Linked DNA regions of Homo sapiens. The protein of the gene in region 1 interacts with the protein of each later gene in a biochemical or structural test. Each region holds a gene or a part of one and is shown on either strand. Other genes may lie near its edges.

Region 1 (3,500 bases):
AAATTTAAGTGTTTAGAAAAAAAAAAAATCATTCACATCGTCTCTTGCAAGTTTATGCTTATCTGAACCTTTCCTGTAAGGTTTTTGTTTTAACACAACCCTGACCACTACGAATCATTCAGTACAATACGAGAGCTTACCAACACAAGGGGTTTAGGAACTAATAATATTCTCCAAAAAACACAGAGGCCTCTAACAAAAGAACATACAATATGAAGCTGTTCATATTCTTGCTGGGCATCTTTGAGCACTGCTGATCACTGTTAGAAATAACTCCTGTATCCTAATGCTCTAATAAATGACTCGACCATAAATACACATGGGGTTTCATGCCATTCTTACCTGTGTAAGTGCAGAACACTCCACATACTTGACAGCCTTCAGGTCACGGGCCAGCTTTTCAGCAGTCTCTGGAGTGATAGGCTTCTGTTTGTTCTTGGCAAGTTTCTCAATAGTAGAGGGGTCATCTCTGAGATCAATTTGAGTCCCAACAAGCAAGAAAGGAGTCTTTGGACAGTGGTGAGTTATCTCAGGCACCCACTAAAAAAAGGTATTTTAAAATACACCTTTGTTAATCAACAAGCCTCTAATGCTATTTATAACAGGTCAGTAGAAATTCTGAGATGATCTTCTTAGGGCAAGAGTATCTGATCAGCTTACCTTTTCTTTCACGTTTTCAAATGAAGATGGAGAGACCACTGAAAAACAGACTAGAAATACATCTGTTTGTGGATAACTCAGCGGTCGTAATCTGTCATAATCCTCTTGCCCTAGAAAAAAGAAAAATATTGGAGAGAATTCAGCAACTGAATCTTGGTGTCCTCAAAGTGTTAAAAGCATGCTGGTCATTACTCAAAAAGCAACTTACTTATCTAATAAAATGTATGGCTTTGTAATATAATATGTGGGCAATATTCTCAATCAGCTAATTCTACAAACTTCAAGCACTCAGAACAGCAATGAATTTACTATTATGTTATTTGCTTTTATTACCAGTTTGTGGTGTTCAATCTTTGTGTCCATTAGAAACCCAATAATAAATGTAATAATAAACTCTTGCTACAGAAATGGTTAAAAATCAATCCTTGTAATCCCAGCACTTTGGGAGGCCGAGACAGGCGGATCACCTGAGGTCAGGAGTTCAAGACCAGCCTGGCCAACATGATGAAGCCTCATCTCTACTAAAAATATAAAAATTAGCCGGGTGTGGTGGTGCACATCTGTAATCCCAGCTACTTGGAAGGCTGAGGCAGAAGAATCACGTGAACCCAGAAGGCGGAGGTTGCAGTGAGCCGAGATGGCATCACTGTACTCCAGTCTGGGTGACAGAGTGAGACTCCATCTCAGATATGGTAAAGAAACAATCACAGTGAAATCATCTAAGGAAAGAAAAACCTCACTGAAACCCAGATGACAAAATCCACTGCCCATCATGACTACAAACAGAGGTTCACATATTTAGTTAATGCGTGTATATAAGACCGGTATCTGAAACTGATAAAGCCTAGAAAACAAATTTAGCAAGAATTAATCGATACTCAAAATAATAAAAATACTTAGAATTAACTTAATCAGAGGCAAAAGACTTGGATAACAAAAAAATTCAAAACTGCTGAAAGAAATTAAAGAAGACATAAATAAATGGAAACACATCCCACATTCATGAACTGGAAGACTTAATATTGTTGACATGTCAACATTATCCAAAGCAACCTACAGACTCAATGCAATCCCTATCAAAATCCCAACAAGGGATAGTAATCTTGAAACAAGGGACAATAGACAAAATAATCTTGAAAAAGAATAAAGCTGAAGCACTCCCATTTCCTGATTTCAAAACTTACTACAAGGCTACAATAATCAAAACAGTGCGGTATTGGCATAGGGAGATATATAAGACAATGGAATAGACTAGAGAACCCAGAAATAAACCCTTACATATGTGGGCAAATGATTTTTCTTTTTTTTTTTTTTTTTTAGACAGAGTCTCACTCTATCACCCAGGCTGGAGTGCAGTGGCACAATCTCGGCTCACTGCAACCTCCACCTCCCCAGTTCAAGAGACTCTCCTGCCTCCACCTTCTGAGTAGCTGGGACTATAGGCACACACCACCGCACCAGGCTAATTTTTGTATTTTTAGTAGACACAGGGTTTCACCATGTTGGCCAGGCTGGTCTTAAACTTCTGACCTCAGGTGATCTGCCCACCTCAGCCTCCCAAAGTGCTAAGATTACAGGTGTGAGCCACCGTGCCTAGCCTAGCTCAAATAATTTTTGATAAGGGTGCCAAGACCATTCAGTGGTAAAAGGACTCTTCAATAAATGGTGCTGAGAAAATGACATATTCACAAGCAAAAGACAAAGATGAAACCTTACCTAATACTATATACTAAAATTAACTCAAAATGGATAAAAGGTCTAAATGTTAGACCTAAAACTTTAAAACTCCCAGAAAACATAGGGCAAAAGATTCAGGTGGACTTGGCAATAATTTGTTTGGATATCACACCAAACCACCAAAAAATAGACAAACTTCATGAAGCTGTGAAAATTTTATACATCAGAAAATAGTATCAACAGAATAAAAACGCAACCCACAAAATAGGAAAAAATATATGCAAATCGTGTATGTGATAAGAGATTAATACCCGGAATCTACAAAGAACTCCTAAAACTTACCCCAAAAAAAAAATCCCAATTCAAAAATGGGCAAAGAACTTGATTAAACAGACCTTTCTCCAAAGATATATAAATGGCCATAAGATGCTCAACATCACTAATCATTAAGGAAATACAAATCAAAACCACAATTAGATACCACCTCACACTAATTAGGATGGCTACAATTAAAAAAAAAAAAAAAAAAAAAAAAACAGGAAATAAGTGTCGAACAGAAGAATGTGACTATATCAAACCCCACGTACTGTTGGTAGGAATATAAAATGGGACAGCCACTGTGGAAAACAATACGGAGGTTCCTCAAAAAAATTAAAAACATGATCCAACAATTCCACTTCTGGGTATATACCCCAAAAGAACTGAAAGCAGGGTGTCAACAAGGTATCTGTATACCCATGTTGATAGCAACATTATTCAAAATAGCTAAAACGTGGAAGCAATTCATAGCACCAGTATTAAAACTGGAACCCAAACATCCATCAACTTGTTAATGGATAAACAAAACTGTGATATATTCATAGAACAGAATAACACTCGGCAATCAAAAGAAACAACTACCAATACACACAACATGGACAACTCTCACAAACATTATGCTATGTAAAAATAGTCACACAAAAGACTACATATTGTATGGTTCCATTTATATGAAACCCTAGAAAAGCAAAACAGTAGAAACAAAGAAAGCAGATCAGTGGTTGCCTGGAACCAGGTCAAGGGACAGGGCTGACTGCAAAGGGAACCCAGAAATAAACACTCACATATATGGTCAAATAATTTTTGATAAGGGTGCCAACACCATTCAGTGGTAAAAGAACTCA
Region 2 (5,295 bases), on another chromosome or scaffold:
ATCCAAAGCCTTTTCTGTCACCTTGCTCATCTTCTCTGCACTGTCTTCTTGCTCTATGCATGGTTTGGTACTTCTATGTGATCTGTGACCATTTCTCTCTGTTTACTCTCAATACTTCATTGACTGCCTCTGTGTTGACAGATCCTAAATCTTTGTGACCATGGCTCTGGTGCCATATTCTGAGCTGTTTGTACTGGGATGTTTACATTCGGGATGGCTCATAGTTCAAACTTGTAATTCCCCCTAACTGGAGCAATTCCCTTTCCCAATAGTCCCCTTTTTTCTAATGTCAAGACTACTCTGCATCACATAATGTAAACAGCATAAGCTTTGGAGGCAGACAGAACTGGATCCACCTCCGGTTCTGTCACTGCAAGCTGATGATCTTAGCCAGTTAACCTGTAAGGGTCTTGGTTTCCTCATCTGCAAAATAAGGATGAAAAGACTCGACTCATGGGAATATTGTAAGGATTAAATTAAAGAACAGAGGTGAGAGCACCAAACACATACTAGGTTCTCAATAAAGACTGGCTCCTCCTTCCTTATTTCAAATTTCTTTCTAGGTTCAACATGTTTCAAGTATTGGTTTACATGTCCTTACTTGCCTTTCACACATATCTAATCAGTAATCAGTCATAGCAACTGACAGCTGAGACTTCATTGAAAACAATGGTTTCCAAATAGTTCTCTGTGCAGCCTCAAGAGTTTGCCAGAGGCATCACAGAGTCCTATAGGGCTGGATTTCAGATGCCCTATTGCTGGCTATCAGAGTAGCTCCAGAGTAGCAGAGTACCTGCTCTATATACTGGGCTTTTAGCTAAGTTGTCATTTAATGAAACAGATTACCATGCTTAAAATTTGAGAATGAATGACTTGACCTACTTTCCTTACTTGACAAATGAGAACAGAGGTCTATGGCCGGGTGCAGTGGCTCACACCTGTAATCCCAGCACTTTGAGAGGCCACAGTGGGTGGGTCATTTGAGGTCAAGAGTTTGAGACCAGCCTGGCCAACATCGTGAAATCCTGTCTCTACTAAAAATACAAAAATTAGCCAGGTGTGGTGGTTCACACCTGTAGTCCAGCTACTCGGGAGGCTGAGGCAGGAGAATCGCTTGAACCCAGGAGGCGGAGGTTGCAGTGAGCCAAGATCACGCCACTGCAGTCCAGCCTGAGTGAGAGTGAGACTCTGTCTCAAATTAAAAAAAAAAAAAAAAAAGAAACAAGGGTCTTAGATATGACATGACTCATCCAACCCTACAAAATGCCAGGACCCAACCATCTGCCCACCCCACTGGACCTTATCACACACCTATATGACTCAACTACATCTGCTCTAATAGCACTGCTGAATTAATTAACTTTTATTAAATGGTCTTCAACCTTACAGAGGCTCTTTATTCCTTATCTCTGCAGTGACAAATTCCCATCTAGTTTGTGAGTTCTAAATAATTTGGTCTCATGTTTTATTTCTCACTACTCACCTCCACCCACAGCTCCATTCTAGACATGTAGTCTAGTCGCATCATGCTCTTCCCTCCTTTGTACCTTTGTTCACATCGCTCTCCTGCCTCGAATGCCCTCTCTTGTCTTACATGCACACCCAAATCCTTTCCACCTTTATACATCTGGCTCCGGTTCCACTTCTTTTAGGAAGCTTCCTAATGCACTGCTTCACTGGCCTCTTTCCTGAAACTTCTCTTATTTTTCAGTCAGTAACATAGTTAATTTTGAAACAGTTCATCACTGTTTCAGGTATATATGTCACATTTCCCCAACAAGACCATGGGTTCACTGAGTTTAGGAGCCACATTCTGTACTTTTCTTCTATCTACCAAGGCATGTAACAGAATTCAAAATATATAATATTCAATAAATTGCAGTGAACCCTACACATTCATGGTTTCAACCAACCCTGAAACTGTTTGAAAAAAAAATACAACAATACAAAATAATACAAATTTTAAAAATACAGTAACAACTATTTACACAGCATTTATATTGTAGTAGGTATTATAAGTAGTCTAGAGATGATTTAAAGTATATGGGAGAACGTAAGTATATGCAAATACTACAACATTTTATTTATTTATTTATTTATTTATTTATTTATTATTATTTTTTGAGACGGAGTCTCGCTCTGTCGCCCAGGCTGGAGTGCAGTGGTGCGATCTTGGCTCAATGCAGGCTCCGCCTCCTGGGTACATGCCATTCTCCTGCCTCAGCCTCCCAAGTAGCTGGGACTACAGGCATCTACCACCTAGCCTGGCTAATTTTTTGTATTTTTAGTAGAGACGGGGTTTCACGTGTTAGCCAGGATGGTCACAATCTCCTGACCTCGTGAACTACCCACCTCAGCCTCCCAAAGTGCTGGGATTACAGGCATGAGCCACCATGCCCGGCCAAATACTACACCATTTTATATAAGGGACTTCAACATCTATGGATTTTGGTATTGGCCGGGGGTGGGGAGAATGGGTGCTGGAAAGAATCGCCTGTGGATACCAAGGGATGGATATACGGGATGGGCACAATGATTCTGCATGCAAGTGCCAGTGAGCTTCCTGTCCAAAGGACATCACCTGGACTCAGGAAGCAAAAACTTTCTCAGACGAGCCATAACTACCACTGTCCCCCAGTTACATTCATGCTCACCCCTAGGCTACCAACTGTTATTTGTGTCTCCCCTCCTTTCTCTGACATGCGCCTATCGGGAGAGCTTATCTACCAAACAAAGGAGTATGTTAGACCCTAAATTTTACCTGTTCACTGGTGGCTGGTGTTTCTAGGATTTCAGTCAAGGTCTCTCCTGGCTGGAACCGGATGACATCCACAATTAAACGTTTTGTACTGAAACGAGATGGGGGAGGCATTTAAATATTACCAGTGTTCTAGTTCCTCTCAAGTGGACCGAAGCAGCAGCAGCAGCAGCAGCACAAACAGTACCTCACAGAAGTCCCAAGCGGCAGCTGCCAGTACACAGTACTCAAGGCACAAGGCTTATTTACCCAGCCATTCCATAAGTAGGTACGAGGGTTAGGATTTCCAAGATTTACATTTCACTGTAGCATATTAGCAAAATAAGGCAGATAAGTCCTGTACCAAGTACAATATGCGAGGTGATTGGTGACTGGGATTATGACAAGTACGAGAGGTCAGGATGGTCATTTCAGGTAGGACCCAGCAGGTTCCTCTCCAAAGGCCAAGAAACCTTCAGATTACATTCATTTCATTCTTCCTTCTTTTGATACTCACTTCAGTAAGATGGTTCGAGCATCCATTTCTGCATTCTCATCTCCAGGCACGTCGAACTTGTTGGTCAGGGTGAGAGACACTTCCGTCTTAGCCAGTGCCTCCTTATTTGGGTCATTTAAATTGCCAGAGCTTTCCCCTGAAGTTTTGGGAGGGTGGAAAGAGTCAGCGTAATAAAGAGAGGAGATATTGGGGGGAAATAATACAAATATAAGATGATGCAAGTCTAAGATAATACTTGAATCACCTAACACATACAGTGTGACGAGAACAACTTTTACTGAGAAATAAAATGTTATGCCAAATGATAAAGGCAAGGGATCCATAATAACTCCATAAATGTTTGAGAAATCATTTCAACACTACAATATCACAATTCTCTCTGAAAACATTCTTTCTGGCTGGGTGCAGTGGCTCAGTCCTGCAATCCCAGCACTTTGGAAGGCTAAAGGAGGAGGATGGCTTGAGGCCAGGAGTTCGAGACCAGCCTGGGCAACATAGTGAGACTCCATCTCTATTAAAAAAAAAAAAAACAACTCAGGAGGATCACTTGAGCCTAGGAATTTGAGGCTGCAGTGAGCTATGACTGCACCACTGTACTTCAGCCTGGGCAACAGAGGGAGACCCTGTCTCATAACAAACAAACAAAAAAATTCTTTCCTTTAGAGGACTTTTAATTTATGTATCTGCAATTTTTTTAAAAAAACACAAGCTGGCAGTATGTATCTGCGTTTAAAATGATCTTTTCCTCTGACTCCAGTTCCTTATAGATATTGATCACATCTGGGCTTTTGTTGTTGTTGTTGTTTTCTCTCTTATGAAACTATCAGGATCACATCTATTTTATTTCTCAATGTATATCCAGAGTTTGGTATAGTGCAAAAAATAGAGGAGGTGACAATTACAACACTTTTCTGTCACATTCCCTTTTGATCTTCCAGGCAAAAGTTAGAACTCTACCTATCAGGGACTCGATGGTGGGCACCTCGCCGAGGTCGTCCAGCAGTTCGTGGATTGGATCATTGTGCTCCGGAGCAATGGCATCCTGGTGATCCAACAGGAGCTGCAAACACCAATGATCAACTCCATTTATACATTCAACTCTTCAGCCCGTCCCTCCCTAGAATGTCTAACAATGATCTGCACAAAGAGGTTCCAACAAAGTTCCTATATTCAAAGAAACAACAAGCAAATCCTCAGCAAACTAACCCAAATAAACAATATGATATATAAGGCACCACACCAGGCTCTGTTGAATGACTTATGTTATGATATAAGAAGAGGAAATACTGGTATTCTCTTAACCTCATGGCCATAAAGGATTCAAATGTGCCCTGTTTGAGAAAGAACACTGGCTGGGTGCAGTGGCTCACGTCTGTAATTCTAGCATTTTGGGAAGCCAAGGCGGGTGGATCACCTGAGGTCAGGCGTTCAAGACCAGCCTGGACAACATGATGAAACCCTGTCTCTACTAAAAATACAAAAATTAGCTGGGCGTGCTGGTGTGTGCCTGTAATCCCAGCTACTAGGGAGGCTGATGCAGAAGAATTGCTTGAACCCAGTAGGTGGAGGTTGCAGTGAGCCAAGATTGCGCCATTGCACTCCAGCCTGAGTGACAGAGCAAGACTCCATCTCAAAAAAACAAAACAAAACAAACAAACACAAAAAACCCACAAAACACTGAAACTCAAAGTTCAATACCCAAAGTCATCAATGTACCCTACTGCCAGTTCAAATAAGTCACGTGCACGCTTTTACTTAATGTTTCCAGTGTATGACATGATTTAATTCAGAGAAAAGTATACCAAATCAATGTTATAATTATTGTAGGGGCACTCAACAAAGTCTTCAAGGTGCCATTATCCCCAGTGATGCCCTCAGAAATGACAGTAACCTGAAATTTCATTTACATTTTAACATATGCCCTTGTTCCTGTTTTACATGTCCATGTCCCCAGAGGGGAAAAAATGATTTGAAAAATCTGAAGAAACATGGAGCTCCAGCTTCCAAGGGAAAAATCCACTCCAAGGCTACACAGAGAAAG

What was found. Proteins that work in one complex are often made in the same cells at the same time.
Region 2: the proteins of CDC42 (region 1) and IQGAP1 form a complex in vitro, tested with the Homo sapiens proteins (6 studies listed by BioGRID and IntAct).

What each region holds. Positions count from the first base shown.
Region 1 is NC_000001.11:22,083,709-22,087,208, reverse strand, and holds part of CDC42 (cell division control protein 42 homolog isoform 1 precursor), read right to left. Parts: intron 771-3,500; coding exon 661-770; intron 541-660; coding exon 343-540; intron 1-342. UniProt on the Homo sapiens protein: Plasma membrane-associated small GTPase which cycles between an active GTP-bound and an inactive GDP-bound state. In active state binds to a variety of effector proteins to regulate cellular responses. Involved in epithelial cell polarization processes.
Region 2 is NC_000015.10:90,485,049-90,490,343, reverse strand, and holds part of IQGAP1 (ras GTPase-activating-like protein IQGAP1), read right to left. Parts: intron 4,315-5,295; coding exon 4,212-4,314; intron 3,391-4,211; coding exon 3,255-3,390; intron 2,850-3,254; coding exon 2,762-2,849; intron 1-2,761. UniProt on the Homo sapiens protein: Plays a crucial role in regulating the dynamics and assembly of the actin cytoskeleton.